2 separate regions of the Homo sapiens genome follow, and region 1 is reported to be linked to region 2. The links are microRNA targets in miRTarBase. Many come from high-throughput screens and were not tested one by one. Region 2 holds a microRNA gene; the other region holds the end of a gene's coding sequence.

Evidence for each region. The annotated mature microRNA hsa-miR-937-3p reads AUCCGCGCUCUGACUCUCUGCC and lies in region 2 at 801-822, opposite strand. An mRNA with a match to its seed (bases 2 to 7 or 8) in the 3' UTR can be bound and repressed. Matches are read on the target gene's strand: a 7mer-m8 pairs with bases 2 to 8, a 7mer-A1 pairs with bases 2 to 7 and ends in A, and an 8mer does both.
Region 1: miRTarBase lists FOXQ1 as a target of hsa-miR-937-3p. Seed matches in the 3' UTR shown: 7mer-m8 at 599-605.

What each region holds. Positions count from the first base shown.
Region 1 is chr6:1,313,383-1,316,889 of GRCh38, forward strand. It overlaps FOXQ1 (forkhead box Q1), which reads left to right. Exons shown (of 1, transcript NM_033260.4): 1 at 1-1,376. The coding sequence ends at 534. Among named protein-coding and RNA genes, the nearest start is that of FOXQ1, 3.0 kb to the left of the region's middle.
Region 2 is chr8:143,812,171-143,815,170 of GRCh38, forward strand. MIR937 (microRNA 937) reads right to left here and starts at 872; the gene lies at 787-872. It overlaps SCRIB (scribble planar cell polarity protein), which reads right to left. Exons shown (of 37, transcript NM_182706.5): 2 at 1,831-1,948; 3 at 1,648-1,726; 4 at 1,467-1,556; 5 at 1,300-1,356; 6 at 1,141-1,204; 7 at 860-934; 8 at 647-791; 9 at 96-214. RefSeq lists enhancers at 1,981-2,645, 2,930-3,000.

The DNA of each region.
Region 1 (3,507 bases), not on the chromosome of region 2:
CTGCGGCCCGAGGAGGCCCCGGGCCTCCCCGCCGCCCCGCCGCCCGCGCCCGCCGCCCCGGCCTCGCCCCGCATGCGCTCGCCCGCCCGCCAGGAGGAGCGCGCCAGCCCCGCGGGCAAGTTCTCCAGCTCCTTCGCCATCGACAGCATCCTGCGCAAGCCCTTCCGCAGCCGCCGCCTCAGGGACACGGCCCCCGGGACGACGCTTCAGTGGGGCGCCGCGCCCTGCCCGCCGCTGCCCGCGTTCCCCGCGCTCCTCCCCGCGGCGCCCTGCAGGGCCCTGCTGCCGCTCTGCGCGTACGGCGCGGGCGAGCCGGCGCGGCTGGGCGCGCGCGAGGCCGAGGTGCCACCGACCGCGCCGCCCCTCCTGCTTGCACCTCTCCCGGCGGCGGCCCCCGCCAAGCCACTCCGAGGCCCGGCGGCCGGCGGCGCGCACCTGTACTGCCCCCTGCGGCTGCCCGCAGCCCTGCAGGCGGCCTCAGTCCGCCGCCCTGGCCCGCACCTGCCGTACCCGGTGGAGACGCTCCTAGCCTGAGTAGCGCCGCGGGGCCCGGGAACGCCGAGTGCGCGCCGTCGGGGAGGCGGGAACGCGGGCCCGCGCGCGGACTTTGCACTTTGAATCCAGAGGAAGATGAATTTTTAAAATCTCCATCAAACGTGCCTTAAAGCTAAAGCATTTTGACAGGAGTATTTAAACTTAGTCCAGGATATTTTCCTTTGTGTTTTATAACTTTACAGAGGACCAAAGCAATTCTTGTTTTAGTTTCTTTGCGAAGCCTGCTCCTCCTTCCCTTCATAAGGACTTTTTTTGTCTTTCTTTAACGCCCAGGCTTCGTCTTATTTCTACTGTTTTTGTCGCAACTTCCATTGATTTATGTCCCTTCCCTCCCCCCTAAGTACATCAGGGAACCTTTCCACACTATAAATGATATGACTACTGTTTGGGGTTTCTGGGCCCCCATCCGTGTACGTATGTGGCATTTCCAGGTATGACTGAGTGTGAGAGACATGTCAGAGGCTCTTCAGTGATTTCTTGCTATTGACCGATGCTTCACTGTGCCAAAAGAGAAAAAAAATGTTGGGTTTTGTAATTAAATTATTTATATATTTTTGAAACCCGAATTGAAAATGTTGCAGGCAACGGGCTACAGCTTTATTAGTGGTTCTCTAACTGTGGTCTCCTTGGGCCAAGCAATTTCTTTAAAGGAAAAGTTGATTATGTATGTGGGGTGCCAGGACCACTGCCTTGAAAGCAAGTGTGATTTTTATTTTTAATATTATTTTATTTGTGTCTGTGTACATATTCATGTATAAATTTTATGAAACCCAAGCATAGTGCTTATTTTTTAATAAAACAACTGACTTAACACATTGTGATGATGGGTTGGAAGTGGAGAGATTTTTATGTCTGTCCCCCCTCCCAAAAAAATGGGCTCAGGTTTTGGTCTCAAGAAACTTCCTCTGGAGATAAAAATATTTTCCTGAATAATTCGATAAAGGTATTATAGAATGGGCTTGCAGATTTCCGTATGAGATGCATTGCTAGACAGATTTCCAGATAGGACTTCCATTCATGGGCTTTTTAAAAGTTGAAAACCAATTACTCCTCTAATTAGTCACCTAAGTGCTTCCAGAACAAATGAGAGGGAAGTGTCCCTCTCTCCCCCAAGAATCCTTAGCAGGCAAGTTGAGTTCTTAACAAGCCTAGAGTCAAACAGATATTTTCAGGTAAATTGGTTTCGATTTGGGGCTCAAAAAGTTGGAGCCCCAATTTTTTTGACAACTTTTTTGTCATAAGACTATCTTAAAATATCAAAGGTGTCTTCAGGGCAATTTCAAAAGCAATTTAAATGTCATAGTGTTTTTGTCAAAACAAAACCATCCACCTTTTTAGGAATGCAAAAGTTCAACTGGGTGTGAACCAATGGGTAGTATTTTTTTCACTCTTCCCTCATCTGTAAAGATTTCACTTGAAGCAGTGGCAATGTCTTGCATGTTTCAGTTGCAGTCTGAAGAGAAAATGCCTCCTGGAGAGAGGGAGAGACAGTTTCCCATATTATAAATGTAACGGAGGATTTTCATCAGTGGGAGTACCAGGGTGAACACCTGTTCTTCAGTAGGTTCCTAGGCAATACAGTTTTAACAATGCATGGATTGCAAAATTTTAGAGAGTAATACAAACTGTGGGAAATGCAGAGACTAGAAACAGGCCTCATTGCCATGGCTGCCATTCTTGGGTAGATCCCATCTTACCCAGGACAGGAGGATGATTTGAGCTCTACATATAATGAGGTGGGGAAGGAGGGTGGCGTTTATTTCAGGATGCTCTCTTTTGGCAGGAATGGGAGAGAAACAATCTTCCCTAAATCAGGTTAACAGATGATGAGTCTTGACTGATTTGGATGACATCTACTTAGTAATCATAAAGAGTGATAATAATAGGGTTGAATTACGGCAAGAGGTAGACATTTGCACCCACAGGGCCAATAATCCGACCCCAAAATAAACCTGAAACAGACCAGCAACTAGGGGCAGGGGACAACAGGTTCCCTGGGTAGAAATGATCAGACCTCAACATGTTGCTTCCCTCTTCAAAACACATGGAGGAGAGAATGCGGGAGAGCAGGGAGTCAGCCAGCTCTGTCCTTCCCACCTCTGGTTCCAGGGGACCTTGTCTCTCCCACAGTGTGCCTCACCCACAGAGGCAAAGTGCAGCCTACTTGAACATCTTTTTTGTAAAGCCACTGTTTTCTTGTCTGCACTGATACGTGAAGACAGTCCTGCGAAGGGAGATTTAAAGTCGCTTCTGATTTATTCGTGTTAACACACAAACAGCAAAGTGAAAGACAAAGGTAGTGTTCCAAAAATCCCGGCTGTTCCGCCCTCCCCTCAAAAGAAAAAATAAATCCTTCCTTGCTAATGAACACCCTGGAGTCTGGTAGGATGCTGTCCCCTCCTAGCTTCTGGTCCCCTTCTTTGTTTCCCCAGGGACTATAAGCGTTTCTAAAAAATTGTCAGAGTCGCTTGAGTTTTGCACCCCTATTTCATGACCATTTCCAAGCTCAGTATCCCACGACTAGAAGGACATCACACTGGGCGGGCGGGGCGGGGGCATTGGAGGGTCCTGGGCTGTCGCCTCCTCCCTGTCCCTCCTTCACACACCCAGCCCCGGGGAGTTTCGGTTTCTCAGTGCTGGGTCGGAGGCAGCCCAGGAGGAAAGGCGACGGCACAGCTCCCGTTTTCTCAATGAAGGCAGAAAGCTGCACAGCTGCTTTTAGTTCAGGCGAAGCTGGAATTCCGCGGAGCCGCACCTGGCGGCAGGCACGCCGGCCTTCGGAGGGGCCGCTCGGTGCGGCTGCAGGACCCTGCACTCAGGCAGCAGCCTCGCGGTGGCGGTGGGACCTCTCGAGCCCAACAGCTCCTTCCAGCATCTGCCCAGAAAACTGCCTTCCTCGCAGGCGCGGGAGGAGGGTTCGGGGCTCACTGTGCCCAGGCCCCCAGGCCTGGC
Region 2 (3,000 bases):
CCAGCACCCCCCAGCAGCAGACACAGGCTGATGCCCTGTCCTTGTTCTGCACCCCCGACGGCCCCATCCTTTCTGCCTCCCAAGCCAGACCCTACCATCAGCAGGTTCTCCGTGAGGATCAGCTCAGAGAGGTTCTCACAGTCCCCGATGGCCTCGGTCACCTCGCACAGCCGATTCTGGTCTACCTTTAGGATGGATAGCTGCTTCAGCTGACCTGGCGTCGGGGAGACAGGGGGACAAGGCTGAGCATGGTCCCCAGACGTGCCTTACCCACCTGGCCAGAAGCGCCCTCAAGGCAGACAGCAAGGCCCCCAGCCCCTTCTGCCGCCGCCGTACTTCGGGAGGACCCTACCTACCTTGCCCCACAAGCCTGACCCAACCTCCTTCAAGAAAACACCAGGCCCCAGTGGCACTGCCACCCTTCCGCCCTCACAGACTCCACCGCCCCCTCCAGCACCACCAGCTGCCTCCTCAGCCTTCTGGGCTGCCCCAGGGTCCCACCTCCCCTCCCCAGGGACAGCTCCCAGAGCCTGGGCACACTCAGGATCCTCCCCTGTGTTCCACACCACACACAGCCCCGACGCCCCACGCTCCTCCCAGGGCCAGGCTCCGTGTGCCCCACCCAGGCACCCCCAGGCACACTAACCGATGCCGTCGGGCAGCCTCCGCAGCAGGTTCTGGGACAGCAGCAGGTCAGTGAGCAGCACCAGCCCGCCGAGCTCAGCAGGCAGCTCCTCCAGCCGGTTTTCCGACACGTCCAGGCACACCAGGCGCCGCAGGTTCCCGAGCTCCTGCAGGTGGGCAGAGAGTCAGAGCGCGGATGGGCACGAAGCAGGGGGCCAGCCCCACCCTGACTCACCGGGGGCAGTGCTGACAGCTGGTTCCGGTCAAGCCACAGCTCCCGAAGATTGGGCAGAGCCCCCAGAGTGTCTGGCTGCAAGAAGGAACAGAGAAAATAGTGACTATGAGGCAAAGCCTCCTGCTGCGCCGTGCTCAAGAGACTATACGCCCCCACACCCAGCTCCCACCCGCCTGCCCTCCCGAGGTGCCCCTTGCTGTCGGATCTGCTCGCTGTCCCCTTCTTTGCCCTTGCTTCCGTGGCCCGCCCTCCGGTCTCTGCCCTGTCAGGCCTCCACGCACCAGCACTTCCAGATCGTTGCCTCCCAGATCCAGCTGTTCCAGCTTGACCAGAAATGACAGGGACCTGCAGAGGAAGCAGGGTGGAGGTGTGGCCACGCAGCCCTGGTCCCTGGGCTGTGGCCCTGCCCTGGCTGTTAGGAGAATGCCTGTCACACTCACGCTGGCAGGGACTTGAGCAGGTTCTCCCGGAGCTCCAGGGTCACCAGGTTGGCGAGGCTGAAAGAGAGACCAGGCGCTGGGGCAAGAGGAAGGAAAGCAGTGGCAGCAGGGGCAGGGCCAATCCTGGTCCCCCACCCCACCCTAGTTCCACCTGAGAAGGCACTCACTTGCCCACGTCCCCGGGCAGTGCCTGCAGAGACACATCATTCAGGGCCAGGTGAGCCAGGCTGCGCAGCTGAGTGAAGCCATCAGGGAGCCTGGATGGGAGGAAGCAGAGGCCCTCGGATGACCAGTCCAGGGCTGTGGGACCCATAGCCCCTACCGACCCCACCACAGGCTGCCACCCACCTGGAGAGGGGGTTCCCGCTGAAGTCCGCGATCTCCAGAGCCTTGCAGAACTTGATGCTCTCCGGGATCTCAGGGATATCTGTCACAGAGGGTCACAGTGGACAGATGCCATGGCCTGCAGGCCGTCTGCAGCCCCAGCGGACACTCCCCAGACCCCACCCAGCCCCTGCCCAGGCTCCCCACCGTTCCGGGACACGTCCAGCTCCACCAGCTGCATGAAGTTGGCCACCTCGGGAGGCAACCGCTGGATCTCGTTGTCGCTCAGGCCCAGCTTGCGCAAGTTCAGCAGCCGGAAAAAAGGCTGTGGGCAGGGAGGACACGGACTCTGTGGCAGAGACCACTGCAGAGCAGAGAAGAGCTCCTGGACACGTGAGTGTCACAAGTCAAGAGTCCCTAGGCCTCTGTCTGCTCCAGGTCACACCGGGTCCTGGGGTCTAACCACGACACCCCATTTGCAAAAAAAGGAAAGAAACACACGGTACACACGCCCACTGTGGCTGCCTCCCTCTACTCTTCACACCAGCCTCCACTCTGAGAAGACACCTGCTGGCGACCAGACAAAGCCCCAATCCCCTACCCTGTGTCTTACCTCAGGGCCCACCCAGCCCCTGAACCACTTCTGCCACCCTCCAGGGGCCCACACTGGCCTCTGCTACTGCATCCTGACAACAAGCCTGGCCTGGTTCTGCAGCAAGAACTCAGTAAACGCTCCCCACAATAACACAGTACCACAGGCACAGTGCTACGCGCGAGGCCTGCAGGTGGCCACAGAGGACCGAGCTGTCACTGCCACGGCCAGAACAGGGTCACATTCTTTGGGACACCCAACCCCTAGGTACTGATCACCCAGCACCCCATCTCCAGAAAAGAAATACTTTTTAATCTGCTTTCTCCAGCCTCCTTTCTTGTAGCAGCCTTAGGAGAGCACCTGACCACGAGAAGCAAGGGTAAAGAAAGGGGGACAGCGAACAGATCCGAGAGCAAAGAGTACATCAAGAGGGCTCCCCCACTCACCCCTGCACCCAGCAAAAAAGGAGAGGAGGTCTGGACCCACCTCCAGAGCGGCCCAAGAAGCTAGTACTCATCAGCCACCTGAATCCAAGTTCCACCCTAACCCCATCCACCTCCCTGAATCCCCACGGGTTTCACTCTGAGGCTCCGCCTCCAGGCTCGGTGACAATCGCTATCCCCAGGCAAGCACCTGATGACCGCTGCCACCTGCGCCAGCCAGGGCGGCTGGAAGAGAAGGGTGGGGCTGGCTGGGGTGGGGACCTGGCCAGTGCAAACCAGCAGGGCCGGCTGGAGGCTGCGGTGACTCGCCCGGGCAGATTCTGCCGCCGGAGGAATCACGGG